Linked DNA regions of Homo sapiens: all the other regions are linked to region 1. The links come from fine-mapping of genetic effects on gene expression. A gene starts in region 1. Each other region holds a variant in brackets. All regions are shown on one strand. Distances are between the middles of the regions.

Region 1 (11,116 bases):
GTTAGAATGGATTCCTTGCTGTCAGGATGCTGGTAGGTACAGTGAAAGGATCAGAGCATTAGGGGAAACAATGAGTTTGGCTCTCTGAATTATCTACTGCTATAAATTGGTGGAAACTTTAGTGTTTTACTCATGGCACTATTGGAGTTACATTCTTTGCATCCCAAACTGTGTCAAGGAATACCTTAGTTACACCTTCACAGATACCAGATATGATAAAAAGAACAGAACAATTTAGTTAATTAAGAAATTATTGCTGTTTCATATTACTCCCTATAAATGTATAGGGATTAAAAGAATAAAACAGTAAGTATAAAATAGTAAGGGAGAAAGTAGACTTTATATGGACAGTGAAGCATACTGTGATGGATAATTGGACTATTGTTTGGGGATTTAGTTTATTTTATTTTGTTACTACTTAGAATCTAAAAATCCTTCAGGTTTTGGAAGAATAATGTATTCTGTGTTTTGTGCCCAATTTCCCATTAAAGCCAAAAGTTCTGGGCTCTACTTCAAGGAGGCTAAGGAGGAAAAGACATACAGCCTAGAGTAAGCTAATCAAATGATCTCAATCCAAAATTTGAATCTTGAAGCAACGAGGTAGACAACACAGAGTTGAGAAGTCACTCATAGTGGTGTCAGCAGCTTTGAGATCAGTGCAGCCCTGAAAGCAGCAGTGCCCTAATCTGTACTGTTATATGAGGCTGTGTTCCCAATTTCCTAGCCCCTCTTGTTTCCTATCCATTGCCATTACCTAATGTACTAGCCTTCATCTTCATGCTAAATTCTGTAACTTTTTACATAGTCTATTTGTTTTCAGGTTTGCCAGATTCAATTTCTATTGCTTACAAAATATATCTCTGATTAATGTAAGTGGAGAGGATATGGACAGAAATTGATTTCTCATCTTCAGTGACAGGAGTAATGAGCAAAGGTATAAATGGCATATGGCTAGGAAATACTAATGAAACTTCTAGGACAGGGAAAAATAGACATGAAATAATCAGGAGACAAACAATAGGGCCCATTGAAATAGAGGCAAGAAAAAGATGGTTGAAGGTGTAACTGCTTAGGTCTGGGAAATACAAAGAAGACTCTTCAATGCTGATGCCAAAAGATAAGATAAATGGCTGCCGCTTTTCTAGTAGCAAGATAGGATTAACCTGAAGGATCTTGTGGGGTGGGGACTATGATTTTAATAAATGCTAATTAGGATAAACCAAAGGCTACTATTAGTTTATTGTGTTAGAATCTTTCCATACAAGAATTTGACAAAAAAGAAAAAAAAATGGGGGATTTTTTTTTTCTCCATTCTTCCTTCTTTGGATCATTTTTGTCTTTGGACTCTCAGTGACTGATTACCCCTGATGCAACACATTTAAAATGTCTATTTACTACACAAATGAATTTATATGCAGCTCTTTTTCTTTCCAAGAAACCATCTATTAGATAAATGGCATATTCTTCTGGTGCTGTATTTTTAATTAAAAAATACATAAATATGGGCTCACATTAAAAAAGAAAACAGCACTACAGAGAGTAAAAAAGAAAATTCTCCTTCATTCCCCTTCTGTTACATCCCTATAGGTAACAATGCATATATCCTTTCAGATATTTTTATATATCATACATGCACATATATATTTAAAATTTATATTAATATAATGTGAATTTCTCTTGTAAGTATTAACATACTAATCACTTGCTCATTTATCTTGGAGACCTTTCCCATCAGTGCTTATTAATTTACTAAATTCTACATTGTTTACATTCAGGAAATTATTGAACTAATTAAATCTATATGTATATATGAGAGATAAAAAAATTGGATGTGGCAGTTATTATGGCCATCCCATATTTGAAAACAAAATCAAGATTCAGAATGTAATAACATTCTATATGTGATAATTACAACAAAACATTGCTGACTTTCCAGTGATGTCAAGTAAAAAAAAAAAATTCTACATAAAAACACTGTGAAAAAAAGTGATGTGAAAGAAAAAAAGAATATTAACAACATTATTTCTATCATTGCCATCTCAACATTCCCTGACAATAGCAGGGGATAGGTAGAGCAGTCAGAGTTACAAGATGAGGCACTAGCAGCAATTCTAATCCAGTTTATAAACACCATTGTGCAATGAATAGAGTGTGATGCAATGAGAATCTACTTGCCTAATTTATTTACACTGGCAGTCATAAAGTACCCAGTTTTTAAGCAAGTGAGCATGCATTAACATATTTATAAAATAAAATCCTCTCCCTCTCATTTGACATCAGAAAATGTATTAATCATTCCCATAAATATATTAGAATAGGAAACAATGATTATCTCAATAGGTGCAGAAAAAGCATTTAATCAATTAAACTGTCACTCATGGTTAAAAAAAAGCAAACAACAATACATTATGAACTGGAAACAGAACACTTAATAATCTTGATAAAGTATTTACCAAAAACCCACAGCAAACATTGTTATCATTATAAAATGTTAGCAGTATTGCAGTAAAGTGAGGAATGGGACAAGAATGCCATTATTACTTCCATTAAACATTGCACTGGATGCTCTGTTAATAAATAAAAGAAAAAACTGAATAATAAGTGGTTTGAAAAGAGAGAAAGAAGGAAACCATTATTCTTATTTACAAATGATATGATTACCTATATAGGTCATCCAAAGATGTAACAGGGAAATAAAGCAAGCAATCAAAAAAATTCAGCGAAGCTTCTGGAGATAGTACCAATATATTGAAATTGATGCTCTTTTAATACAATGTTACTAAACAATTAGAAAATAGAGTTTAAAGAGAGAGATCTCTAATTTTAGTAATAAAACTAGGAGGCAATATAATGAAAGATACTCAATAAATTACAAAGCATAGTAGCACATAAAGTACCTGAATAAAATAAATATACCATGTTCATAGATAAGAAGACATTTCACTAAATCTCTAAATGCAATTCTCAAGTTGAATAAAATGCCCAATTGAAATCCAATTTTTTAAATGGATCTTGGCTGGCTCATCCTAAAATTTCAATGAAAGAGTAAAGAGCCAAGTATAGTTAAGGCAATTTTAGACAAGAATCATTAGGAGGAGGGGTTTGCAAAATGTTTTAATACATAGAGTTGAGTGCATGGGTGTTCATTATATTATTATTTGTCCTTTCTGTGTTTAAAGTTGCTACAATTAAACTTTTAAACTTGTAGAAGAAAGAATAGTTTCTGATGTTATGTTGGGAAGAATCTTGTAAGCAAGAAAGCAAAAAGCACAAAATTAAAATGTAAAATATTATTAAATTCAAAAAGCTGTATACTGAAGCATAAAGCTTTTGGCAATCAAGAAACATCATAAAAACTGGAAAGACAGTCCATAAACTAAGAGAAGACATTTGCAACACATGTAACTTACAAGAGAGAATTAAACTAGAAAAAATAAATATTATCTACAAAATAATTTTCAAAAGCAAGCAATTTAATAAAAAATGAGATAAAATTAAGAACAGGCTTTAGCAAAAGGGAAAATGCAAATTAAAAGAGCAATCAGATGCTCTTATCAGCAAAAACTTAAAAAGTCTAACAATAGCATAAGGGTAACGATGTGCCAGTCTAGTTTATGGGAAATGGACTTGTATACAGACGAATCTCAAAACCTCTCAAAACCTAAATTAGTGAAAAAAGGGGAAAAATGAAGAATGATTCACATATGAAATATAAAACTAGGAAAATAGTATTTTTAGGGAATCGTACATATGTAACTATTTTCAGAAATACAACGGAATGAGTAATATAAAATTCAGCATAATGGTGAACGGAAGGAAGGAGATGTTTTTAGAGAGTCTTCTTTCTAGAAGACTCCAAAAATACTGGCATTTTTTTTTTCTTAAGCTCTGTAGTGGGTACCTGGGCATTTTTCATTCTTCTTTAAGATATGCACATGAGATATACTCATATGTATATTTCCCAATTAAAATTGGTGTACAAAATCTTTTTAAGGAGAGCCCTTATGAAACTGTTCACATCAGCAAGTTCTAGCTTGAATAAGGACTTCCTGTTACTATGTAACCAAACAAAAGATAGCATTTTCTTGTTTTCTGAAGCTAATGTAAGATGGAAACCTTCAGTTGTAATCCTATTTCAAAAGTTCTTGCTCTTCACATCTGACTTATCCTCAATTATTTCTAGTACTTCAGTACAGATGTGATTTTATAGAATACATTCGCAAATTAAAAACGCCATCTCCATCTGCCTACCTTGGGCTTCCAAGTAAAGTTCTATTTTTACAAAAATCAAAACAGTTCCTCAACTTTAAAAGTTTGAAAACCAGTGTACTTGTAAAGCACTTGATGCAAGCAACTTCTGAATGTTTCACATAAAAACAAACAAAAATGTGTCCTCTGTAATACAGTTAGAGCCTCCCAACAGAGCCTCAGAAGACCGTTTCTAAAGGCAGTGAGTTCTACTTGCAGAAATAGGGCGGGAGTGCAGTCTGACTCCAATCCACACGTCCTTCCCCTCTGACAGAACGCCCCAAAACGCAGTCCTCTCTTTCTTCCGCGCCGCTCCCGCCCTAGTCCTCTTAGACCCGCGACCGGAGGCTCCGGAAGACCCCGAGCCCCGCCCGCTCCGTGACCCCGCCCCCACCCGTCCCGCCCCTGAAAGCGCCCGGAACGCTGTGCGCGCGCCTTCGGGGAGGAGGGGCTGTCTGGGCTCGGGGCGCGGCGGCAGTCAGCTCTATGTTCGCGGTCTTAACCTCTCCTCTGGCCGAGTCCTTGCAAGAAGTGAATTACCCGACCCTGGTGAGTAGCTGCAGGAGTCAGACCTCTTGGAGGCGGCGGCGCCAGCAGCGGCGGCAGGCACGAGGTCCACCGCGGGCGCCTGCGCGCTCGCCCGCCAGCCAATCTGGTGGCCGCTTTCCTCCGGGCGCCCTTTGACCCGGCGCCCCTCTGGCAGGCGCTGGTGGCGCCCAGCGGCGAGCCTGTAGCCCCCTCGATTAACCTAGGCTGTCACTCTTAGGCCTGTTTTAGTCTGCGTTAGTTTTACTGCCTTTTACACTGCTTTATCCCCACCTCACTGGCCTCGTCGCCGCCTCCTCTTTGAAACGGTACCTCCTGTCGCCTCGGATTTTCCTTGTCTCCCCGACAAGGTGGAAATTTCGGGTCGGATGGAAGCCTTTTTCAGCACCTTCTCCTTGTGCCCCCAGACTGCCTCTGGGCCTTGAGCCGACCGGGAGAGTAGAAGGATCGAGGCCTGCTGGGCTCTGGGTGCAACGGAAAGGTAGCTGTCGCCTCTGGGCATCGGGAGGAGACCGCCCGATGGCGAGGCCGCTAGAGATGGTTTTTCAGTTCACCTGTTAACGTGTTTGGCACTGTCATCTTAGACTCTTAGCCTTTGCTAAGTCGGGATGCAACAGTGCTGGATTAGTGTTTTTGTTGTTCCTTTTTCCAAAGAAGCAACTTGAAGTACAGGCAGGTATAACTGTTTGGTTTTGTTGTTGTAAGACCCTACGGATAAGTGTTAGGAGAAAATGTGGAAGTGCTATAAAACAACAACAAGGGGGGGATAATGTTGATTAAGAACTTGAAAATAAGAAAAATGGGACTGGAATAGGCTGTTCACGTTAAAGTATTGAGGCAGTAGTTTGAAACAAAAATATAAAGTAAAACCTAGATATTGGTGATACTGTATCACGTTGTTTGCAAATCACTTTCATGACAATACATCTATTTCAGGTGTATCACACCTGAAAAAAACATGAGTGCTGTGAATTTGTGGATTTTCAGGCTCAATGCAGAAAAACACCCCCCAAAACAAAAAATCACAACAATGAAAACACCATTTCCAGAGCTGTTGCTGTTATTCGTGTGACGAATAGTGAATGTATGATCATAAAATAGAATAAGCTGTCTTTAGATGAAGTTTGGGCACAGTTTATGGAGTAGGTAACAGTTAATCATTGTTTATTAGGTACATAATCCTTAATTGAAAACATAACCATATAGCAGCAGCTTTCATCTTGTGTCACAAAAATAACTGGTGTATCCTCTAAATTTGATTTGTCTAATACCTTAAAGGAAGGCAGAATAGCATGGACAAGAACTTGAGTTCTTGAGCCAGACTCGATCTGCTCCTTGCTAGGTGATTAACCTTAGATTGGTTTCTTGGCCATTTGCTGGCCCAGAGATTTTTGAAAAAGTTACCAACTGCTCAGCTTCATCATTTGTAAAATGAGGTTAAAAAAAATTCTGCGGCCTGGCGCGGTGCCTCACGCCTGTAATCCCAGCACTTTGGGAGGCCGAAGTGGGTGGATCATGAGGTCAAGAGATCGAGACCATCCTGGCCAACCAACATGGTGAAACCCTGTCTCTACTAAAAATACAAAAATTAGCTGGGCGTCGTAGCGTGCGCCTGTAGTCCCAGCTACTCTGGAGGCTGAGGCAGGAGAATCGCTTGAACCCGGGAGGTGGAGGTTGTAGTGAGCCAAGATGGCGCCACTGCACTTCAGCATGGCAACAGAGTGAGACTCCATCTCAAAAACAAAACAAAACAAAACAAAAAACAGAAACTAAACCTCACTGAATTTCTGTTAACCAGAGGGTACAAGTGTTTACAATAAAACTGACCTGGGCAAGGATTGATTTTGAAACTGATTTTGAAAGTTCCAGATGTGTCTTCTAGTATTGAGTTATATTTATCTCCGGTGGCTTCATACAAAATAAAATTAGAAGAAAACAATATATTTTTTAAAAAAAGCACCAGAAGTCTGTGTGATTTAATTTAGTTAATTGAAAGGGAAGTCTTTTTGGCTTTTGTGAGTTACATGATAAAAGCAAATAATTTTTGAAGTACTAATTCATACCACCCTGCTTCTGAATCTCTTGGGGTCTCTTAGCTAGCTGGATATGTCCAATAATTTTTTATTAGACATCACTAAGCTTCAAGTCAGCATTTCAAAGGATTAAAAGCACAAAACTCAAAAAATAGAAGCTACAGGTTCAAAAGAACCTATTGTGTATGAGTAATGTAAACAGTCTTTTGAGGAGAAAACAGATTTTCAGTAGCCAATACTTTGAGTAGGTCCCTGCCTTGGAAAGATATATCTGCAATAAACTTGTAATATTTTCTCTATGGTGACTTATAATACTTTTCTTTTATTGAAGCTAAATTAGTTCCTCCACCCCTTTCCTGCAAGATCAGACATTTTAGGCATCTCAAGGGTCATTGTGGTTTTACAGCGTTGAAGATGATTTTTTTTATTAAATTGGATTTTTAAAATTATTGGATCTTTACGATTCTTTATAATATGTTCAGTATACACCGTAAACTTATCAAGTGTGTATACGGTCAGTAGTCTATATATACACACACACACAGATATACATATATATATATACACACACACTGCCTGAATACCAATGAAACAGCAAAGAGCCAGAAATTAACTTTTTTAAAGCTGAACACTTAATGAACACTATGTGAAAGATATGTTATGCTCTACTAGAATGTGAAGATAAAGACTCCATTTCTGAAACTTAAGGAGCAATCTAGTAGGTGATATAAAGATAAATGCACAGCATGATATAATACATAAGGAATGACAATTTGGCCGGGCACGGTGGCTCACACCTGTAATCCCAGCACTTTGGGAGGCAGAGGCGGGTGGATCACGAGGTCAGGAGATCGAGACCATCCTGGCTAACACGGTGAAACCCCATCTCTACTAAAAATACAAAAAATTAGCCAGGCGTGGTGGCAGGCACCTGTAGTCCCAGCTACTCGGGAGGCTGAAGCAGGAGAATGGCATGAACCCTGGAGGCGGAGCTTGCAGTGAGCGGAGATAGTGCCACTGCACTCCAGCCTGGGCAACAGAGTGAGACGCCGTCTCAAAAAAAAAAAAAAAAAAGAAATGACAATTTAAAAAGTAAATACTGTTAACAATAAAATATATGAGGAATAAGTACTTTTCACTGTGGAATTAGGAGAGGTATCAAGAAGAGGCAGCATTTCAACTTTGACTTGAAGGTGACTGGTATTTCAATAGTTGGTCATATAGAGAATAGGCATTTAGAATAAAATGTGTTATATTTTAATTGCTTGTCGGACACCCATCTTTAATCATCATCATAAACAATTGCTCATTTATTTAGTCTTATACTAAGCCACATGATTTTGAGAGTTTTACAATATTAACTAATTTCATCCTCACAAAAATCCTATGAGTGAAGTAATAACTCATTCTATGGGTGAGGAAAGGAACTCAGAAAGATCAGGTCAGTTTTGTAGGTCAGATAACTAAAAAATGGCACAGCTGGAATTTGAGCTCAAGCATTTGAACTACAGAGCTCATATTTTAAATCTCAATGCCCATCTGTGTTTATTTAGGTTGAGATGACTTAATTGAGACATGGAGGTTGAGCCAGAGCCAGCAGATCATCTCTTAAAATTGAGCTTGTGTGTCATCTATAATGATGTGATAAACACACATTTTAATTGAATGAATGAAGTAATGTAAAATGAGAAGACAGAGGATCAGCTTAAGAAATTACATTCATAGGCAAGAGAGAGAGAAAAAAAAACAGCTTCCATAAATGGACATTTTGTGCTTTGTATTCATGAGTGTATCCAGAAAATGAACCTAAGAAATTTTTTAGAGTTTCCAATATTTCTTCACTTTTCATTTATTTATAAATTCATTAGTATTTACTGTTTGATTAAAACATTACTGTTTCAAATTGTCTTGCATGATTCACAGAATAGTTTTATCAGTAGGCAAAACAGATACCCTCTTTTTTAAGAAAAGGCTAAGTGATTTACCCAGGATCACACAACTAAGTGTGACTGATTTGAATTTACATCTTAAGATTTATTATATATCTTGATCTTTCATGAATCTCGCCATTCAGCTGAAGTCAACGTTTCAAAAATGAATGCCTTACTAATTTATAAATCTGTTAGTTATTTCTCCTTTCTCTGTAACTCTTCCAACATTCATTACCATTGTTTTTTTCCTTATAGAATACCTATCCAAATGTTTTCCTTCTGAAGTATTATGTTCTACTTTTAGAAAACAGAGTAAGAAAATATCACTGTTGTCTCATCCAGACATAACTATTTTACATGTTTAAGTATATTTCCTTCTATGTGTATCTTTAATACAGATATGATATTATATATCATAGTAGTTGATATATTACATCCAAAATATTATTTTTGCTTCATGTCTCATCAAAATTTTCCCTTTCTTCAATCAAAGGGAAATGTTTGTTGTGATGTCAATGATTTGAAAATTTCAGGACAACAAATTACAGTGGCATGCCAAAATGGTTGTATCATCTTTTTTTTTTTTTTTTTTTTTTTTTTTTGAGACGGAGTCTTGCTCTGTCGCCGAGGCTGGAGTGCAGTGGCGCGATCTCTGCTCACTACAAGCTCTGCCTCCCAGGTTCACACCATTCTCCTGCCTCAGCCTCCCGAGTAGCTGGGACTACAGGTGCCCACCACCATGCCTGGCTAATTTTTTGTATTTTTAGTAGAGATGGAGTTTCACCGTGTTAGGCAGGATGGTCTTGATCTCCTGACCTCGTGATCTGCCTGCCTCAGCCTCCCAAAGTGCTGGGATTACAGGCGTGAGCCACCACGCCCAGCCCATCCTTTTATACCTGTTAGTGCAACAGGACTGCCACAGCTCACATGTAGAAATTTCACTTCACAGAGTCATGTAGTGCAGGGTTTGAAAGACTTTGTGACTTAGCCCTTTCCAGAAATAAGCAGGTATGTTAACAGCTCACATTCTTCTATTTACTGCTGGGATAAATAGCACAAACAATTTCTGTTTACTTTTCCTGCATATTCACCATATGGTAATATTTTACCATATTTGCTTACCATTATACACAAACACACATACCCTTACTTATTATACGTTGCATTGTATGTAAGCCATACATTTTATATATAGTGTATGTATGTGGTGTACATATATGTATGAATATGTGTGTATTTATGTATATGTGTGTATCCTCTCTTTAATATATTGTCTCATGGTTCCTCGTGATTAGATCTGGATTAATTTTTAACAAGAGTACCACAGCAGTGATTCTGTGTTTTTCTCAGTACGGGTTCGCTGAAGACTAATGGCCATACTTATTTATCCAAATTAACTGATAAAGTCAATTTTGATCACTAGTTTAAATTGGTGTTTTGGTAGGTTTTCCACTGTTATTATTTCCCCATTTGTAATTAATTAGATATCTTCTGGAGGAACATTTTGTCAGTATGTATATAGTTATTAAAACAAAATCTCCAGACCTGTCTACCTATTCCTTTACTAAAAGTTCATTTACATAGCTTTTTATTAGAGAGGGAGGGAACTGATGTGATGGAATGCAGGGATGGGTAAGAGTTAGGATACCAGGTAAAGTGTCAGAAAAGATTTAGTAATTAATATTGTTTCCCAAGAGTTTTATAAATTTAAATACATTTAATTATGTATATATAATCATACATATTTATATCTAAATATATATGACATGTATCCATATATAACATAAGATGCACAATATGTAAATACACATATATGTGCATGTATGTGTACATATGCACATACACACGTTTATGTATGTACCTGCATGCCTTGATATATTTACAGTATGCATATCGTATATACAGTATACATATATACATATATGACGTATATATGTACACACACCATATTTACTTAAAGTTTGAAACAGACAAAATACAGTTAACTTTAGTTAGATATGCTTGTGTGCGGTGGGAAAACTATAAAGAAAGAAGAGGTGAAATGGTAAACACAAAATTCAAGCAGTTGCCCTTAGGCAGGGAGAAGGGCAGGACTGGTGATTCAGAGGGAGCACGAGAAGTGGAAAGGAGCTTTTAAGCTGGCAGATTTCTTTTTGAATGTTTACTTTATATGTTTTAAACTAGACATGTCTTTTATACTATTCTTTTATGTTATTCTTTATATTATTCACTATTCACAATTAAACAAGATTAACCTTAAAAATAATTCTTATGATTTTAGCTGTTAAAGAAATATACTTGGTTAGTTTAGTGTTTCTTAAATACATGTAGAATAGTGTTGTGGGAAGTCAGGGACCC
Region 2 (11,116 bases), 85 kb before region 1:
CTTTGCCTATTTCCTCTCTGAGAGGTAATAGAGGGAGTCCTTGGTTAGAAGTACAGATTCTGGAGACAAACCACTTGCATTTACAGCCTAGGTTTGTGATTTCAGGCAAAGTACTTAACCTCCTGGGTCTGAGTTTCCTCAAATATAGAATAATAATTATAACTTCATAAGGTTTTGACAATTAAATTAGATGATGCAATGCCTGACATAATGAAAGTGCTAAATAATTGTTAATAATAGATGTTAGAATTTTAAAGAACGGTAAAAATACCTAATTGATGTGGGAAATTCACTTTTAGGAAAACATTGTTAACGTGCAGTGGAATATGTCAAAGACAACATCCCAGTTATCACTGTAAAAATAGGTCTCTGTGTGTTATATACACATTTTCTGCTATCTAAAATTCGATAGATTATCTACATAGTAACCACATAGCTGAAGGACAGTACATACCATCTGAACATGTATTTTCTTTGGGAAACAGTTTTCTCTTAACTTCAACTGCTTTATGATATCCCATGTGGGTTAGTGCTCATATGAATCTACTTACGAGGAAAACCACGTGCTAGAGACACCAAACCTAAAAGAGATGCTGAAACTTGAAGATGTCATCCCATCACTACTTAAAGCAAAAATATAGAGTGATGGTTTTATCAATATTCAGATGAGAACTAACTTAGTAATCAATGCTTTTGCCCTGGATTTTGGAACAGTGTTAGGAATTATAAAATGGCAAACCATGATTAGTCACCCCAAACATATAGAATTGGCTTACTACAGACTGAAAGCTTGTAAAGGGATACTCTTTAGAGGGAAAAAAAAATATGCTTTAAAGATCCTGAAACAGACTTCAAGAGATGTGGCACAACCTGTTTCCAGGAAATAGAATCATCATATGAGTTATCTTTGACACTGCAAAATGAAATGAGGAGATTAAAAATCTCATTCAACTAGTTCAAGTTCTCTCTCTTTTCCTGCCCCTCCACTAGTGTTCATATGGATCTCCCTGCCTGGAATTCCCTCCCTGACCTGTCAGCTGTTTCTTTTTGGATGATTATTACTTATTCTTACTTATTATTGATCACTGAAATCTCAACTTGGATATCACTTCTTCCAGGAAGCCAAATCTAGGTTAGGAGAGTGCTATGTGTGCACCCAGCACCCTGAACTTCCTGTACCACAGTATTTGTCACGTTTCATTAACCTGCCTCTCTACCTGTCCGTATCCTCACGACATAAAAATGCTTTGAAGTAAGAGATCTTCTATATAATGTCACAATCATATCACCAGAGCCATTCCTGGGTCAGTGCTCAATAAATATTTGTTTAAAATAAAAGTAGAGAAAGAAGGGAAAAGGGAGTAAGAATGAAGGTAGAAATGAACAAGCAGTGCCTCATTTATTTAAATAATGGCAAAAATGCTGGAAATCCCCAGAACAAGAAGCCACATGATCCCAGACTCAGCTGTGGCACAAAGTGAGTGAAGTTATATAAGTGGGACCAAAAGGGCTGATTTTGTTTGCTACAGCTTTTTCAAGGCTGAAGATGAAAATATCCTTAAAACAATTTAATCCTTCTGAAATAATGATGGAGGAAAACAACTGTTTGTAAAAGCAATCAGTGATAATTAATAAACAAATTGGCAGAGGTTTTTTTCTTTTTCCTCTGAAAAAGCTTTCTTCCAATGAGTGCTCACGAAGGAACACAGAAAGCAGTCCATTGTATTTTTTAAATGTGTGATTACACCACCTTTGATGTGTATTTATATATATATATACACATACACATACATACACATATGTATGTATAGATATCCCATATGTGGTATTTGTGATATCACATATATCTACCACATATGTGGTAGATATATATCACACACACATATACACACACACACACTCACACAGTTAACATATACATGAAACTCTTTAGACTGAATCTCATTTATCTCATTTGTCGTATAATCTATAATTCCTTAATTATTTTTGGATAAAATGAACTGAAGCTCATTGTACATTTCTCTTATCGGGGGAAATGTGAAATCTTGCTTTAGGATCTAGATTGAGCTTTTCATTTGGGAAGAATCAAATAAATAGATTAAACATTTTTCTTAAAATGTGTTCTATTTTAACAGCACAAGTGAATGTAATAATTGTATTAAAAATTCCTTATAATCACTCTGTAAATTTAAATTATAGTGTACTCCTTTTATTATCTCTTTAAGGAACTGAGCTAAAGAAGTAACAAACTATTCTTTTTCTCTTCGAAAAGAATTTTCTCGTATCTTTTTTTGATATGAATGCAATTGTGAAATGAACTGTGTAGATTCTTCAAATATAATTATGTATAATATTGAAAGTGTCAATGGGAAAAAGGAATAACATCAGAAATAATGAATATGAGAGAAATCTGAATGATGATACATATTTCTTGGAAGCAGGTGACCCAACTCAGAAAAATAACTGTCTTATGAACAGCTGAATATATGTGACTATCCATTTTCCATGTCATTAGATAGCCAATCAACTGAAGTACACAACGAATTTAACCTTTTATTTACCACAAATAATCTGTTTCACTCACATAGTTAAATTGAAATTGTTTGGGTATCATTCATTCATTAGAATCTAGTGCTATTTTGCTCCTCAATATCTATTATCTGTCCTTCTTTCTAACCCAGGAGGTTCATCTGTATGAATCACACAGTCATGGTTTCTCACTCATCTGGCTTCCAGTTGAGTCCAATCAGCGGAGAAACATAGCAGTTTGGAGGAAGAAAGAAAGAGGAAGAGCAGAGAGTAAGGTCAGAATATTACCTGGCTTCTTCCTTCCCTTTCAAAATGAGGTCAAACTAGCTAATCCTTTCAATAAACATCACCCAAATGCCATTGTATTCCTCTGGGTTCCAATAACCATGCTATCTCTGGGTTCCAATAACCATGCTATCTCTTCCTCCTTTAAGTCTAAGGGTGGTACCAGGTCAGCTGCTGCCGACTCCAGGTTATTTTAGTAGCCTTTATAGTCTCCCTTTTGTCTATGTCACTAAACACATCAAGAATTATTCTATTTGCAGTGATCCATATGTTTTCTGCTGAGACAAGATTTATAAAGAAAACAGATTATCTCTGTCAATTATCTTGATATGCATTCTTTTTAAAATCAGAATGTTTACATTATTGACTTAACACTTCCTTTTATTTAGTTATTTTATAAACTCAGACTTATGTATTATACATTTCTCATTAATGTATATTTTTGACTGGAGGAAAAAAGAAGAAGGAATATGGCCATAAAACATGTAGAATCTTCTTTGCTCTTGCACACATGTGGAAGATTCTCCTCTTCTTTACACTTTGCTGGTATTTTTAAAACTGTAAATTAACTCATTTGAATCTATTTTATTTCATTTATCCTGACTTGAAAACTCCTATTAGGTCACCCAGCCTCTATTTCCTCCCATTCCAGAATAACCCAAATCATGTTCAGTAACATATCCTATTTTTGTTTCCAAAGAAGAATCCTGATTGGCCTATGTAGTCTACCTATGCATTTCATTCCTTTGTTCAGGTGGAGCAAGGTTCTTTGGGGCTCAAAAGCCTATAAAATGTGGGGGATCTCTTTTAAAAAACAATACAAACTGTGAATAGGTACAACTAAATATTTATTTAAAATAAAATTAATAATAAATTAAAAATTTTAAAGCTGACTAAAGGTACTACAAATATAACAGAATTTAGAAAAATAATATAACTTTAATGAACTACAAGAAGTTCATTTCTACAGTACATTTTCCCTACTTTCTTTTTTTTTTTATTGTTGGTTTTTAGACAGGGTCACTGTTTCCCAGGCTGGAGTTCGGTGGTACAATCATATCTCTCTGCAGCCTCAACACCTTGGGTGCAAGCAATCCTCCCACCTGAGCCTCTTGAGTAGCTGGGACTATACACATACACTGTTATGCCTGGCTAATTTTGAAAAAATTTTGTAGAGACAGGGTCTCTCTGTGTGTCCCAGGTTTGTGTCAAACTCCTGGGCTCAAGTGATACTCCTGCCTCAGCTCCCTAAAGTGCTGGGATTACAGGCATGAGCCACCATGCCTGGCCCATTTTCCCTCCTTTTCAAAATGCATAGCCCTTGATCACCACTTCTTACAGTTTTATAGATTCAATGCCTATAGCAGAATAAAAAAAATACTTCAGCTTTTTATCTAGTAAAGTTAAATTCAACTTTAGTTTTTATTATTGCTAATAACTTGTTTTTACTTCTGCTACTGGCCTGTGCCCTACAAATAGAAGAATTCTGATAAATTTTGTTTCATGTAATTCCCAGTTAAAAGGGAAAAATGTATAATTCAATAATACTTGTATATTCTATGGTATGACATGTATTTTAAATAAGAAAAATCTTCCATTTTAGTAAGTTATAGATAAGAACTGAATCCTCAGCTCACAATTTTACTCATCTGATAGTGGAAGAGTATTCCACAGGCTAGTTCCTTATGTTTGTATTTTTAATCTTTTTTTTCCATCATTAATGACAACTTTCCAGTGCCAAACATGTTAAAATATGTTAATATCATAATTCAATCTATGCAAAATGGGCAGTAAGTCAGAAGAAGTCTAGCAAAAACTTCACTGTATCAACTAAACAGGAAGTTGACTGCAAACCACATAAATATGCCCCATTAACCCCAAACTAAGAGAACCCCAAACAAAATTCTCCTTAGCAAGAGCTCCCAAAATATTCAAAGCTGCTTGAACATCATCTGCAATGAAGAATAGTGTGAGAAAAGGTAAGTCAGAGTTCAGAGACACCGAGGTCTTAACTATTTGAAGTTTAAAATGACTCATTTTGCAATTTTCATCAAAAAGAAATAAAATGTGAACATGTGAGCACACTGTTAAGGAACCCTCTCCAGGTCTTAGTAAAAGTTCATGCAAGTTCTGGCCTAAAGCTTCATTAGCTTTACACTAATGTATTTACCTCTGTCTCTGGTGATAGTTTCTGGCTCAAGTTTGGGCATGTGACCTAAGCTAGCCCAATTAGTGTGAAGAGAACTACTATTTTACACTTGTTTAGGAGAGGTTTCTCTACCTTCCTCACAGTAAATGTAAACAGAACATCTCTTGCAAGCATGGGAAAATGGGGCAGGGTGAAGTTAATGTTGACTGAGTGGATATTAAAGAACCCAGATTTGGGGGATTTTCAAAATAAGTTCATATCGCCCTTGGAGTTTACCTTTGGATTTATATTTTATATTTAAAAATACCATTTAAGCCAATTTGCATTAGATTTTTCAGTTACAGTGGAAATATCCTAATGTGTACCTACAAATTATTTGGTTTATTTCTGAAAGTCTTGTTGTTTAAGTATCATTTTGCATTTTCATTCAGATATAACTCTCAAATATAAAATTCTGCTAATTAAATATCATTATAAACTGTGTTGAATTGCACAACTATCACAGATGACAGAACTTTTTTCTCAAATAATAAAATATTTTTAAAACTTTTGATATTTCTCAGGTATGATAATAATCAATTGTTTCAAAGATATTTTCCAAGTAAGTTCAAGTTGGTGTATTAGAACTTACATCGATACTCTGTTCAGCATAAACGATCCTCTAAAAGAGATATTTTCCTAAATTACTGAAAGGAAAATATAGGCTTCAGAATATTTTTAAAATTCCATTTTTGAGGTTTAGAAATAAGGCTTACAGCTCA[G/A]ACAAGCATTACAATCAAGCTACTTTCTCATTGGTGAGACACATTTTAAAAGTTAACTTGCATATCTCAACTACACAAATTTCAAGGCATAACATTGAAAAAAGAAAAAACTTCTATTGCTAGTAAAAAAAAAAAATCACAATTCCCTTATGATTCAAATGCAAAAAAAAAATGAGAATATGAGAGGATAAGAGGATGTTCAATGATCCCTTGTTTACTTCTTTTAAAAAATTATGAACCATTTTAAGTCTAAACAAATAGAATGATATAAGAAACATTCATGTTTCTCCAGTTCAATTTGGTTAATTATTAACATTTTTGCATCTTAAATTTTGATTATTTAAAATAAAAATAAAACACCATTACAGATTTGTATTAAATTCCCTTTGCTAGTGTTCCCAATCCCTTTCCTTCATTTCCTACTTCGAAATGACAACCATCCTAAATTTTGCATATATTAACCCAAAGCAATTTTTAATAGTTTTACTGTACAGGTATGACCATACACACACCAACACACACATGCAGATAATGTATTAAATATAGGACATATATTTGATATGTATATATTATATATAATTGTATACATGTATATAAATCACATAACCTACCATACTGTACATCTTTCAGGAATTTCCTTTTTTCACCTAACATTTTGCTTACTTTTTAATCCATGTTTATAAACTACATATGACAATCTAGGTCATTAATTTTTACTGCTATGTAGTTTTGTAATATGTGATAATTATACAATATATTTTGCCATTTTTGATGTATTTTGGGTTTTTTTCCTCACTTTTCCCTATTATAAACAAAATTACAATAAACATCCTTGAGCATATATCCTTGTATGTATTCCCTGTACGAGATTCCCTGGAGTATATTCCTAGGATAAAGTAGAAGTGCCGAGTCTTAAATATGTGCAGCTAAAACAGTATTCAATATAGCAAATTATTTTCCAAGGTAGCTAAATCAATTCATTATCTAACACTAGTAAGCAAATTCCATTTTTAACAAGAAAAATTATTGAAATTAAGGAAATATACAAATTAGGAATTGAGAATATACATCAGAATAAACTCAAGAAAGTGACAAAAGGAATAATACAGAAAAGAGCAGACCTTAATTACAAAGAAAGCAAAAAAATAATGCACGAATCTTTTGTTGTCAGGTTTTATTTGTCTATTAGCTCAAGTTAACGAGCACTATTCAATGAATGTTAACGAGCATTACTAATAGCATCAATTAAATATTCTATAGCATTATTTTTCCTTGCTTTGTCTATTGAATATTCAAAGAGGTATTTAAAGTATTGTATTCCGATTGTGATTATGGTTATCCAATGTTCCTCTGTAATATCATTCATTTTTAGATTATTCTGTCAAGATAACATAAGAAAAAGACTAAGCAGCAGATTCTGTATCTGTGGAAATCAAACAAGGAATATATTAGATTCATGAGATTATTTGAAACACATGGGTCCCATAGGCAAAATAAGATTTGATTTTATTTATGAATATCTAAGAGTCTTGTTGTATGTGAATGCATTAATCAAATTATTGTTTACACCAACATACATTTGCTGCAGTTTTTCTTCACAGATGTATCACAATTTATTTAGCCAAGTCTTTATTTTAATGATTCTTAGACTGTCTGTAATACGTCACAATTTTAACTACTACCAAAATAAACATTTTCCTATGGCTAAATAGTTATATAAAAACTGTTTGTTTTACCGAGGCAGGCGGATCACGAGGTCAGGAGATCGAGACCATCCTGGCTAACACGGTGAAACCCCATCTCTACTAATACAAAAAAAAAAAATTAGCTGGGCCTGGTGGCAGGCGCCTGTAGTCCCAGCTACTAGGGAAGCTGAGGCAGGAGAATGGCGTGAACCCGGGAAGCGGAGCTTGCAGTGAGCCAAGGTCGCACCAATGGACTCCAGCCTGGGTGACAGAGCGAGACTCCGTCTCAAAAAAAAAAAAAAAAAAAAAAAAGTTTGTTTTAAATTATTAAAAGTTAAATTATAGTATATAATGATAAAATTATAAGATGATTAACACACATTGTCCTGTTGTCCCTATATTTTATACTTGTGACTGCAAATTTTAAAATTAAATTAATTTTCCTACATAGCTTTATTACAATGAATAATAATTTTTAAATCTTTGAATATTTAAGAAGTAAAAATCTGTTTTTCACAGTTGTACCATTGAATACCACTGTTATACATGTACTTCTTTTTAATTATTTTTATCAGTAAGTTTTTCTCTTTATTAAAGTTTGTTTATAGTCTATTATATTTTATTTTAATGGGATGCAATTATTTCTCAGGGATTTAATGTGCTTTTTAATTATGATATCAACTCATAAAATTGTTTCTCTTTTTTTATTTGGCCTTTAATTTTTTTATGTATGATTTGTTGTACATCATTCATCATATACAATTTGCTTTATAGCCTTCATTTTTATTGTACTTAAATCTCTCAGTCTTTTGTGGTTTCCTCAACATCCCTCTGACATTAAAAAAACATACACTAAGCCTCTAGTTTATGTCAATAACTGTTCTAGGTATAGGTAATAATTTATTGGAAAAGACAAACAAAGCCTTGCCTTCTTGAAGCTAACATTTTATTCATTGCATTTCACTGATATAATAATCATCATTTCATGTGCATAACAATGAAAAATACAAATAACTTACAATTTTTATAGCTTTTGCTTGTTTTATTTTTAATTGAGAATTTTTTATGTAATGTAATATTACCTTTTTATAAATATGCAAATAATTATTATATAATTCTTAATTTCTGCATGATTTAAAATGCCATATTACTGAGAGGTGTCAATGTGCTAGCAGCCCTCACTGCCTCTCAGCACCTCCTCGGCCTCAGCATCCACTCTGGCCATGCTTCAGGAGCCCTTCAGCCCGCCGCTGCACTGTGGGATCCCCTCTCTGGGCTGGCCAAGGCCAGAGCCTGCTCCCACTGCTTGCAGGGAGGTGTGGAGGGAGAGGCACGGGCAGGAACCGGGGCTGCACCCAGTGCTCATGGACCAGCGCAAGTTCCAGGTGGGCACGGGATCAGCAGGCCTCACACTCAGAGTGGCCAGCTGGCGCCACCAGCCCCGGGCAATGAGGGGCTTAGCACCCGGGCCAGCAGCTGCGGAGGGTGCGCTGGGTTCCCCAGCAGTGCTGGCCCACCTGTGCCGCACTCGAATTCTCGCCGGGCCTTAGCTGTCTCCTTGAGGGGCAGGGCTCAGGACCTGCATCCCGCCATGCCCAAGCCCCTGCCCCGCAGTGGGGCTCCTGCGCATCCCGAGCCTCCCCAGCGGGCACTGCCCCTTGCTCCATGGCACCTGGTCCCATCGACCGCCCAAGGGCTGAGGAATGCGGGCACATGGTGCAGGACTGGCGGGCAGCTCCACCCATGGCCCCGGCGCGGGATCCACTAGGCAAAGCCAGCTGAGCTCCTGAGTCAGTTGGGGACTTGGAGAACTTTTATGTGTAGCTAAAGGTTTGTAAATGCACCAATCAGCACTTCTTGTCTAGCTCAAGGATTGTAAATGCAGCAATCAGCACTCTGTGTCTAGCTTGAGGTTTGTGGATGCACCAATCAGCACTCTGTATCTAGCTAATCTGGTGGGGACTTGGAGAACCTTTATGTCTAGCTAAAGGATTGTAAATACACCAATCACCACTCTGTGTCTAGCTCAAGGTTTGTAAACACACCAATCAGCACCCTGTATCTAGCTCAAGGTTTATAAACACACCAATCAGCATCCTGTGTCTAGCTCAAGGTTTGTAAATGCACCAATCAGTGCTCTGTGTCTAGTTAATCTGGTGAGGACTTGGAGAACTTTTATGTCTAGCTAGAGGATTGTAAACGCACCAATCAGCACTCGGTGTCTAGCTCATAGATTGTAAACGCACCAATCAGCACCCTGTCAAAATGGACCAATCAGCTCTCCGTAAAATGGACCAATCAGCTCTCTGTAAAATGGACCAATCAGCAGGATGTGGGTGGGGCTAGATAAGAGAATAAAAGGCTGCCCGAGCCAGCAGTGGCAATCCACTTAGATCCCCTTGCACAGTGTGGAAGCTTCATTTTTTCACCCTTTGCAATAAATCCTGCTGCTGCTGACTCTTTGGGTCCGCACTGCCTTTACGAGCTGTAACACTCACTGCGAAGGTCTGCAGCTTCACTCCTGAGGCCAGCGAGACCACAAACCCACCAGGAGGAATGAACAACTCCGGACGGAAAAAACAAACAACTCCAGACGCGCCACCTTAAGAGCTGTAACACTCACCACGAAGGTCTGCAGCTTCACTCCTGAAGCCAGCGAGACCACGAACCCACCAGAAGGAAGAAACTCAGAACACGTGTGAACATCAGAAGGAACAAACTCCAGATACACCATCTTTAAGAACTGCAACACTCACCATGAGGGTCCACGGCTTCACTCTTGAAGTCAGTAAGACCAAGAACCCACCAGTTTCGGACACATTACCATACAATAACTCTTAGTTATCCAAAAGTCTATTGTTATTATTTTGTTTAACTTCCAATTTGATTTATTGATCTCTTATTAGTTATTTCTTGTTTGTTTTAGGATCCATCTGTTAAAAGATTTACACTGTACAGTGTATTCCATTGTTCATATAATTATAATAATTTTCCACATACCATAATTTAGTCCATTTATTGAATAATCAGAATAAAGTAACCATTATAAATTTTAAAACGTGGAAAGTGTTTGATTATAAATAATAGCATGGTCTTTTACATGTTCCCCTAAAAGATGAAAGTTACTCTAGCTGTTTCTTGGTAACTTGCTTTAAAAATATTTGCATGTTGCCTAGCACCCAGTTAGCAATAAGCCTCAGATAAAACTTTCATTTAATGATTTATTATATTTTCCACTTAACTCTTCAAGCATCACGCTCCTATGGCCTTTGTAAACAGTAGACATTGCTCTGATCATGAGCTTTAAATGACTTCACATTAGCTACAGAAAAAGGCTTAATATGCTCTCAAAGCTGTTGGTGTCTTCCACAATTTTTTCTTATTGTATTTCTCTAGGCTCATCTCTTATGTTGTCTAACAAAAGTCCTCTATTCTAGCTAGTGTGATCCATGTTGATTATTCAGAGTTACATAAATTCTCCATGCCTATGTCTACCTTCTTTGATGTCTTCTACACTTTAGTCTTGCCTTCTCATTTAAAACAAAGCCTCAACTATTTCTCAATCATTATAAATCCTTATAAATATACTGCAATAATGGAATGATATTGTAACGTAAGTGTTTCAATTCTGGAGAGTTTAGCATATTTTGCTTTTTATCCATCCTTATCATCTACATTTTAAACTTCTTATCCTTCCTCTCATATAA
Region 3 (11,116 bases), 240 kb after region 1:
ATTGAATAGAATCTTTTAGCCACTGCTTGTTTTCATCAGTTTTGTTGAAGATCAAATAATTGTAGGTGTGAAGCATCATTTCTGGGCTCTCTATACTGTTTCATTGGTCTGTGTGTCTTTTTTTGTACCAGTAACCACTGTTTTCATTGCTGTAGCCTTGTAGCATAGTTTGAAGTTGGGTAGTGTGATGTCTCCAGCTTTCTTCCATTTGCTTAGCATTGACTTGGCTATTCAGGTTTTTTTTTTTTTGTTCCATATGAATTTTAAAATAGTTTTCTCTAATTCTATGAAGAATGTCATTGGTAGTTTAAAAGAAATAGCATCGAATCTATAAATTGCTTTGGGCAATATGTCCATTTTGGCAATATTAATTCTTTCTATCCATTATCATGGAACGTTTTCCCATTTGTTCGTCATTTCTGATTTCTGTAAGCAGTGTTTTATAATTCTCACTGTAGAGATTTTTCACCTCCCTGGTTAGCTATATACCTGGGTATTTTTTGTGGCAATTGTTGTATGTCTGATTTGGCTCTCAACTTGGATGTTGTTGGTATATAGGAATGCTACTAAGTTTTGTACATTGATTCTGTATTCTGAAATTTTGCTGAGGTTGTTAATCAGATCAAGGAGCTTTTGGGTGGGCAGAGACTAAGGCTCCTACCCAGTTCATTCTATGAGGTCAGCATCAACCTGATGCCAAAACCTAGCAAAGACACAACAACAACAAAAAGAAAATTCAGGCCAATATCCATGATGAATATAGATGCAAAAATCCTTGATGAAATATTAGCAAACTGAATCTAGCAGAACATCACAACACTAATCCACCATGATCGTGCAGGTTTTATCCCTGGGATGCAAGTTTGGTTCAACATATGCCAATCAATAAATATGATTCATTACATAAACAGAACTACCAAACAAAAACCATATGATTATCTCAATAGATGCAGAAAAGGCTTTTGATCAAATTCAACATCGCTTCATGTTAAAAATACTCAATAAACTAGGCACTGAAGACACATACTTCAAAACAGTAAGAGCTATCTATTGCAAACTCACAGTGAACAGCATACTGAATGGGCAAAATCTGGACACATTCCCCTTGAAATCTAGAAGGAGACAAGGATGCCCTCCTTCACCACCCCCATTCAGAATAGTACTGGAAGTCCTGGCCAGAGCAATCAGGCAGAAGAAAGAAAGAAAATGCATCCAAATAGAAAGAGAAAATGTCAAACTATCTGTGTTTGCAGATGACACGATTCTGAGACTTGGAATTTTGTAGACTGATTTCGCCCATTTTATTCTTCTATTTAAAAATTGCTTTAGCTATTTTAGACCCTTTGTCTTTTCATGTAAACTTTTTAATAACATTTCTATATCTACACAAAATATTGCTGGAATTTTTATAACAATTACATTAATATACAGGAAAATTACATCTTTCCTATGTGGAGTCTTCCAATCCATGGACATGGCATTTTTCTTGATTTATTAAGAATTTCTTTAATGTCTTCTTCAGTGTTGTGCAGTTTAACAAACAAGTCACGTATATTTTGTTAGATTTACATGTAAGTATTTCATTTTTTGAGTGATTATAAATGACATTGCATTTCTAATTTAGATGTGTATGTGTTTGTTCATTGAGCTTACACAGAAATACAATTGTGTTTTTTATGTTAAACTTGTATCCTGTGACTTTATTGTACTCACTTTATGAATTTTTCATAGTTTCCTTGGGATTTTCTATGTAAATTTATGTCATCTGTAAATAGAGACTATTTTATTTCTTCCTTTCTGATCTATATCCCATTTATTTCCTTTTTGTGTGTTAATTTGTTGTCTAGAATTTCTGGTACCACATTGGGTAAGAATGTTATAGGCAGACACCTGTCTAGTTCCCAATCTTAGGAGAAAAGGCATTCGGTCTCTCATTAATAGGTATGAGGTTAGCTGAAGGTTTTTTTGTAGATGTTATTCAACAAGCTGAATAAATTCCACATTATTCTGGGAGATTATACCATAAAAGATGTTGAATTTTGTCAAATAACTTTTTTGCATCAATGTATATGATCATTTTATTCTGATTTTTCTTCTTAACCTATTATATAATGGATTATATTGATTGATTTTAAAATCAGTCTTGCATCTCTGAAATAAAGCTCATTTGGCCATGGTTCATAATTTTCTAACATATTGCAGAATTCTATTTTCTAACATTTTATGAAGAATTTCTATGTCCATATTCATGAAGGATATTAGTCTGTAATTTTCTTTTTCATATTGCCTTTCCCTGGTTTGATATCTAAGTAATATCAACTTCATCAAATGTGTTGGGAAAAGTTTTCTTCTTTGTTTTCTGAAAGAGATTTATATTAATTATTCTTTAACCTTTGGTGGAATTCTTCAGTGAAACCATCTGGTCCTGGAAACCTTCTTTTTTTAAAAGTCTTAAAGTTATAAATTCAATATCCCTTCCTTTTAGGACTCCAATGACACAGAAGTTGAATCTTTTGCTACAATTCCTCACATCCCTGAACTTTATTACGTTCAATTTCTCGTTATTGTCCATATTGGGTAATTTCTATTGTTCTATATTCAAATTCACAAATTCCTTTCTTTTTTATTTTCATTCTTCTTTTGAGCCCATCTAGAGGGTTTTCAATTTAGTTACTACACTTTTAAATTTTGAGTTTCCATTTTGTTCTTTATGTCTTCTCCCCTTGCTTTCCATATTTTGTTTCAAACGAGTTCACATTTGCTCATTGAAGCATTTTTATGATCACTGCTTTTAAAGTCCTTGCCAGATATTTTTAACATCTGCATCATCTAGCTAATGGCATTTGTGGATTGTTTTTTCTCCTTGAAGTTAAGATTTTTCAGGTTCTTGGTATGGGAAGTGATTTTTAATAGAAATTTATATGTTTTTGGTATTATATTATGAGGCTATGTATTTTATTTAAATCTATTTTAACAGGCCTCGTCTGCCACCATTCCCATGGGAGTAACAGTACTGCCAGTGACAGTGGAAATCCAGGTTACTCACTCACTATCTGTTTACGCCCAAGGAGTTTCTTTCTTTTTTTTTCTTTTTTTTTTTGAGACAGAGTCTCACTCTGTTGCTCAGGCTGGAGTGCAGTGGCGCGATCTCGGCTCTGCCTCCCGGGTTCACACCATTCTTCTGCCTCAGCCTCCTGAGTAGCTGGGACTACAGGCACCCGCCACCACACCTGGCTAATTTTTTGTATTTTTAGTAGAGATGGGGTTTCACCGTGTTAGCCAGGATGGTCTTGATCTCCTGACCTCATGATCCACCCACCTCGGCCTCCCAAAGTGCTGGGATTACAGGCGTGAGCCACTGCGCCAGGCCCAAGGAGTTTCTTACTACTGCTTGGCAGAGATGATAGTTGAAGCTCTCCAGTAGACATCTGCTGACACGATCATGACTGGGAAAGCAAGGGTGTCTGGTTTCTGCTACTCTTAGCCATGTGGCCTCTACTGACATGTTAGGGGTAGATGTCTGAAAGGGTGAGAGGCTGTTCTAGTTAATTATTAGTGGTGATAAAAGTTCTGACTCTCCATTATATCTCCTCTGATACTACCCTAGGAGGAGGAGGTGGGTACTTCTTTATCCTCAATGGGAGTGGAAGTCCAGACTCTCCCATGTGGTCTCCACTGATACTCCAGGAGACCAGGGAAGGGCTTCTTTACTGCCCTGTTGGGATAAAGCTCTGGGCTTTCCATTTAGCTTTCTCTGACACCACACTGGCCAGGTGGAAGTGGGATAAAGAGGTGCCTCATTTCACTATAGATAGAGTGGACATGTAGATTCCAGATTCAGCCATTGTCAGTGGGGGGTGGGAGTGGGGTCATGGTTTTTTCTGTGATATATTGCTTTCATAGGGTGACTATTGTGTAAAAATTTTCTGTATTGTTAGGCTGCCCCTTTCCTGGTCCTTAGGTTAGAGAGAGTGAGCTTTTCTTGGGGTTTATTTTGTTTGTGTTTGTTGTTGTTTCTGGGTTGCTGGCTTCTGCAGAATCAAATCTGGCATAGCAAAAGCAAAACCCAGGGAAGGCACTACTATGTCATTCCTAATTCCAAGATCCCTAGAGTATCTTCCTTCTCTCCATATTTCACAGCCCTCTTAAGTCTGTAATATGTATAAAGTCCAGGGATTTTAGCTGTACTTAGTGAGAAAGGCAGGAAAGAAGATATCTATTCCAAGTTTTTATAATTAGAAATCTCTATGTTAGCTTTCTAAACAAGTTTTTACATTGTGACATAGGATAACACCCCTAAAAATTATTTTTTAATATTCTTATTTTATTGCAAAAGATCTGATTTCATAGTTGTTTCATAAAACCATCATATTTTATTATGCATTGAAATTATTTTCTTTCAGATGTTAGAAATCATTATTAGGTGCTTAGACTATTTCCTAGTCTATATATTTATCAGAGGGACTCCAATTGAGATTAATTAAGTAGAGTTTTCTAATTCTAAGACTGCCTTATTATAAAGAACAACAAATATGTCTCTAGAAGACAAAATTGATAGTTTATGAACTAAAAGCTATACATCATAGACTAGATTTATTTGTCTTAATCTTCAAGTACTTAAGTGTTTTTTTAAAAATAAGGACAGTCAGTTGGGTTATCTAGAAGTAGACTATATGCAAGTGCCTTCTAAAAATATGTTTACATTATATATATAGCATCTTAACCTAGGCCATTTTTATGAATTCTCCTGATAATTGGCTTTATAGAATCTTACTGGAGATATATTTTCTTTTCTCAGCACTTCTGAGACTATCTAAAATTGTTTCAAGCACTGTTGTGATGATGCAATATTAAGAAATATAATTAACAAAATATAGATTACTTGCATATATTAAACATTAAATGTGTAGAGTGCATATAAATATTTAGGATTCCTGAGTGACCTTAGTCTTCAAAGTGCACTCACCTCATCTGCAACCATTGACATTTATTCCTTTTTCTAGGCCAGAAGAGGGAAATTGGTGGGCACATGTGTTGTTTTTTTCAGTTTCTTAGCTCTACCCAGAGTCTATGGATATGCAAAGTCTCAGAAACAGCTGGAAAAACCATCTCAGCTCTACCTGTGGTTTGAAAACTATTTATCCCTTAGGATGGATCTTCATCCTTCTGTGCATTACTTCAGCTGTGATCACAACAGCCCACTCCCACCCTCACCTTCCCGAGAGGTAGGAGTTACTATGTAGTGAAGCCACACACACTGCCAGACTTCTCCAGGTCCTTGACAGGGAGGAGCACGCATTTACTTTATTGGGGGTTGGTATTGGTTTTCTTCTTCTGGGATGGCCAAAAAAATCACTTTCCATTTTGATCCATCTTTTCTCCATGTATAGTTGTCTAAATACCTACCACTTCACCTACTCTGTTCACAATATTTTTCATCCATTCTTATCATCATATTCAGTTGTATTACATATTTTATATGTAAATGAATTAAACAAGTACTATAAAGTCCTTAGCACAATCACTGGTAGATAGAAAGTACTTAGTAAAGATCACATATCATTATAATTTTTCTAAATTATTATTTTATAATAATACGTAATAAAAATGTTCCATATTAGTTAAAGATATAACTATAATTTATTAACTATGAAATAAAACAGTATTTTAATAAAACAGAAGCTAAATAACAGTGGCAGGAAAAATGCATTTAGCCCTAAGACCCCATGTTTAATTTCTCCTGCAGTCACAATATTTTAATTGAGTGCTTATTTATAAATCTTTTTATAATCATCTCCTTTCTCTCATTAATAAATATGTATGCATGATTAT[TA/T]GACTATGAAGATACAGCTGTGAGGACAGTTGGACATTTATAAGTCTGATTCCCTGTCTACCTCCTCCACTGCTTTCTGAAAAGAGACCAAGTGTGGTTCATTGTGTTCTCCAGGGCCAAGTGAGTGTGCAGAGTTCACCTAACATGTGTTGACTTTTCCCCCAAACCAGTGACCCAGTGGCATGGAAGTTGAACTGTGTTCTCTTTGCCTGAGAACATGTGGAAATAGTGTGATAGCAGCACTCTGCCAAGGGAGGGATCACTGAAGGTGAACCAAAGAATCTTTATGAATGGAACTGTTTATTTAACTGAAACAAAACTGAAGTATTGGACTCCAGCTATACTACGCAAACACCAATTTTTCCCTTCTTTGTGAATAATAACAGACAATACTAAAATACAAGAGCTTTATATAATAAAAAGTAAATGTCACATGTAAATAGTTTCACTGATAGAGTCACAAGCAAAAGAAGACAGAACTGTTAAACATTACAATGTACTTTCATAACCAAGAAGTGAGCACACTTGATCTAATAGATACGATTCCATAAACATTGCCTTAATCAACTATGGATTTCAGTGTTTGTCTTGCCTGTGGTCAAGACATTGAAAATATGCTTATCATTTTGACTTCGAATATTCATAAAAATTCGATGCCCAATCATTTTTTGATGTTTTAATTTAGATAAAATTATGATACTATAACAATATCTGAAGAACAACTCCAAATTGGGTTAAAAGTGTGAATAAAGAGGATTATAATGTCAATGTTACTCTAAATCCATAATTACACATTTCATTGAATTCGCCATTTCTTATATATTTCTGTGTCTTCTCTCTCCACAAGATTTTACCTATAAGTTCATAGTTGACAGAGGAACAACACAATCATATCTAATTTCTCCATTAGTTAACCAACAAAAAAGTGAAGATTAAGTGTCCTGTACTATATTACATATTGAAGGTACAAATTATAAAAGAACTCAAGATGCTACGATCCTATTTTCAAATAGCTTCCAATCTTATTAGGGTAAACAAAGCATAGAGGAGTACAAAATTTACTGGGACAATGTGTAATCAAATGCCAGACCTTGGGGAACCATGTGAATTTGTGACCATTCCATAAAAGAAAATCATAGCATAATGTATGTAGCTATGACACAGCTCTTGATGACCCTTTATGGTGCTACACATTTGATGTCTTTATCATTCCTAAATTCACCCAATCTCTTTTCCGTATTTTATCATCTGTGAGATCCTCTTGCCCTAGGGCCCCATTACCTTCTGCTAAAGATGAAGAAGCATAAAAGAGAAGAGCAGAAGACCCTCAAGATCAGGATATGTGTTTGGACAGTGACCTATTAAAAACATGCCCTGTACTTATTGTGTGTCAGGCCCTGCACAAGGCATGTTACTTATATTATCTCATTAAATCCTTAACATTGCCATGTGAGATAGAGTGCTATTATTATGATCTTTTAATAGATGAGTGAACTGGAGTTAATAAAGTTGTTATAATTTGTTTCAGGTCACACACAGTGGATACCTAAGATGTTGTGACACTTGGGCCTATGCTCAGATTCTTCACAGAAAAAGCCCCACTGAAATTGCTAAGGTTGGGGTAGAGGAGAAAATTGAAACTAAAAGGGAAAATCTAGAGGCCTGTAGTGCAAATGTCTCAATACGCAAAAAGCCAGAGGTGATTTGGGTTCCAATTTCTGGCAGAGAAACTCATTTTATAAATGAAAGTTATTTCCTCCAGAAAATGTAAAGCATGTTGTCATAATAACCCATTGTGGGTTGTAGATCACCAGCATCAACTAATGCAAACTAGAGAACAAAATCAAGAAATGTATCTTTCCTTTCTAAAACTTTGTTTTCCTTTTCCATGTAGTCCTTTTATCCATAATGTTAATTCTTTGCTATGGGTTATGGTTAGCAAATCAGTATAGATCTATATGTTACAGTTCTGGGAACACTACTTTTGATTGAGGAGTAAGGTAGAGAAAATTGGTACATTGATTTTAAACTTATAACAACTTGGTGTTTTCTAAATTTTATTGATGTACAATTGGTATTTGGATTCCTTAATAGATTTGTTGACTACATGGATCTTTAGAAATACTAAATCAATTAATAATTTCGTGGTGGTGCACAGCTTTGGAAATGCAGGAGAAGCTCCACCTGTTTTAGTGACAGATAATCCAGGCTGCTGCTACAGATTAAAACCATCTGGCCAATAAGGGAGGGACACTTTTTCAACCTCAGTTTTTCTGGACTGCTAGGTAGACTAATAAGGAAGAAAAGAGAGAAGGTTCAAATAAACACAATTAGAAATGATAAGGAAGATATCACCACTGACCCCCCCGCCAAGAAATACAAACAGCTATCAGATAATACTATAAATACCTCTATGCACATAAGCTAGAAAATTATCAGAGAATATTATAAACACTTCTATACACATAAACTAGAAAATCTAAATGAATAAATTCCTGGACACATACATCCTCCCAAGACTAAACCAGGAAGAAATTACATCCCTGAATAGACCAATAATGAGTTCTGAAATTGAAGCAGTAATAAAGAGCCTACCAACTAAAAAAAAGCCTAGGACCAGACAGATTCACAGCTGATTCTACCAGAGGTACAAAGAAGAGCTGGTACCATTCCAACTGAAACTATTCCAAAAAATTGAAAAGGTGGGGATCCTCTCTAGCTCATTCTATGAGGCCAGCATCATTCTGATACCAAAACCTGGCAGAGATACAACAAATAAAGAAAACTACAGGCCAATATCCTTGATGAACATCGCTGCAAAAATCAGCAAAATACTGGCAAACTGAATTCAGCAGCACATCAAAAAGCTTATTCACTTCGATCAAGTAGGCTTCATCCCAGGGATGCAAGGTTGGTTCAACATATGCAAATCAATAGAAGTGATTCATCACGTAGACAGAACTAAAGACAGAAACCACATGATTATCTCAATAGATGCAGAAAAGGCCTTCAATAAAATTCAACGTCCCTTAAAATTCTCAATAAATTAAGTATTGAAGGAACACACTTCAAAACAATAAGAGCCATATACAACAAACACACAGCCAGTATCGTACTGAATGGGAAAAAAGCTGTAAGCATTCCACTTGAAAATGAGCACAAGACAAGGATGCTCTCTCTCACCACTCCTATTCAACATAGTATTGGAATCTCTGGCCAGGGCAATGAGGCAAGCAAAAGAAATGAAGCGTATTCAGATAGGAAGAGAGGAAGTCAAACTATCTTTGCTTGCAGATGACGTGCTCCTATATTTAGAAAATCCCAATGTCTCAGCCCAAAAGTTTCTCAAGCTGATAAGCAACTTCAGCAAAGTCTCAGTATGCAAAATCAATGTGCATAAATCACAAGCATTCCTATACACCAACAACAGACAAGCAGAGACCTAATCATGAATGAACTCCAATTCACAACTAAGGAGCTTCTGCACAGCAAAAGAACTATCAACAGAGTAAAAAGACTACCTACAGAAAAGGAGAAAACTTTTGCCATCTATCCCTCTAACAAAGGTATAATATGTAGCATCTACAAGGAACTTAAACAAATTTAAAGGAAACAACAACCACATTAAAAAGTGGGCAAAGGACATGACCAAACCGTCCTCAAAAGAAGACATACATGCAGCCAACAAACAAACATATGAAAAAAAGCTCAAACTCACTGATCATTACAGAAATGCAAATCACAACCACAATGAGATATCATCTCATGCCAGTCAGAACTGTTATTAAAAAGTCAAAAAATAGACCAGCAATCCTGAGAGGACCCACAGACCCTCTGAAGGAAGCAGACTGCTCCTGCAGTACACAGGAGACCCCCCTCCATCTCCTGCAAAACTCTGAGTGCCTCAACTGTGGAAGTGGGAAAGGGTGACCCTCCTCTCCCAAATACACACCCTAATTGGAGAAGCTGAAGGCCTGTTTGCAGGAGAAGTTTCCAACTTTACCTGGAGCTGAGTCAATTTGGAAAGCTGAGTGAAATACAGGGGTAGAGGTAGAAACAGAAAGGCCCTGGGAGCTTTTTGGGTTCCCTAGCAGGCCATTCCTGCCTGGCACCACAAGGATCCATCCGGAGAGGAGCAGGGGGTAAAACTAAACATGGAGAAACAAATATGTAGCTGAACTTGTTAACAATTTGAACGGGGTGATAAGTCTCCTGGTGAGAACTCGGTGGGAGGGTGCTAATCTGGTGTGCAGACTTCACAGGCAGAGAAAGTACTAAGTGCTTTTCTTTCACAGATAGGAGGTGGATAGTCTGGGGCAGGTTTTCAAACCCATATTGCTCTCCACCTGGAAATGGTCTGAGAGCTGTTGGGGGAGGCACGGTGGGAATGAGACTGGCCCTTTGGTTTGCATGGGAGCTGGGTGAGGCCTGTGACTGCTGGCTCTGCCCCATTTTCCTGACAACCTGCCTGACTCAGCAGAGGCAGCCATAATCCTCCTAGGTACACAACTCCAGTGACCTGGGAATCTCACCCCCATCCCCCACAGCAGCCACAGCCAGACCTGCCCAAGGAGAGTCTGAGCTCAGACACACCTAGCCCTGCCTCATTGATAGTCTTTCCCTACCCACCCTGGTAGCAGAAGACAAAGGGTATATAATCTTGGGAGTTCTAGGGCCCTGCCAACCACCAATTCCTCCTTCTAATACCACAGCTGATGCTCTTTGGAAAGCGCCACCTCCTGGCAGGAGGGCAACGAGCACAAAAAGAACATTAGACCACAAAACCAGCACAAACAGAACATTAAACCACTAAAGCTAAGAACCCTGAAAGAGTCCATTGCACCCCTCATCACCTCCACTGGAACAGGCAATGAGATTTATAGACAGTTCACATCACAAGACTCTGTGCAGACAACCCCCAGTACCAGCCTGGAGCCTGGTACGATCGCTGGACTGCTGGACCGCTAGACCCAGAAGACAGACAACAATTACTGCAGTGTGGCTCACAGGAAGCCACATCCATAGGAAAAGGGGGAGAGTACTACATCAAGGGAACACCCCGTGGGACAAAAGAATATGAACAACAGCCTTCAGCACTAGACCTTCCCTCTGACAGAGCGTACCCAAATGAGAAGGAACAAGAAAACCAACCCTGGTAATATGACAAAACAAGACTTATCATCACCCACCCAAAATTACACTATTACACTAGTTCTCCAGCAATGGATCCAAACCAAGAAGAAATCCCTGATTTACCTGAAAAAGAATTCTGGAGGTTAGTTA

Evidence for each region.
Region 2: its variant is fine-mapped to the expression of MANEA in tibial artery (GTEx, PIP above 0.99).
Region 3: its variant is fine-mapped to the expression of MANEA in lymphoblastoid cells (GTEx, PIP above 0.99).

The regions. Positions count from the first base shown.
Region 1 is chr6:95,572,842-95,583,957 of GRCh38, forward strand. MANEA (mannosidase endo-alpha) reads left to right here and starts at 4,694. Exons shown (of 5, transcript NM_024641.4): 1 at 4,694-4,797. MANEA-DT (MANEA divergent transcript) reads right to left here and starts at 4,610. Exons shown (of 3, transcript NR_104136.1): 1 at 4,252-4,610. RefSeq lists silencers at 4,434-4,513, 4,564-4,653, 4,934-4,993 and enhancers at 4,790-5,730, 5,194-5,293.
Region 2 is chr6:95,488,211-95,499,326 of GRCh38, forward strand. No RefSeq gene overlaps it. Among named protein-coding and RNA genes, the nearest start is that of MANEA-DT, 84 kb to the right of the region's middle. The variant G/A (reference allele first, on the strand shown) is at 5,725.
Region 3 is chr6:95,809,578-95,820,693 of GRCh38, forward strand. No RefSeq gene overlaps it. Among named protein-coding and RNA genes, the nearest start is that of FUT9, 200 kb to the right of the region's middle. The variant TA/T (reference allele first, on the strand shown) is at 5,833.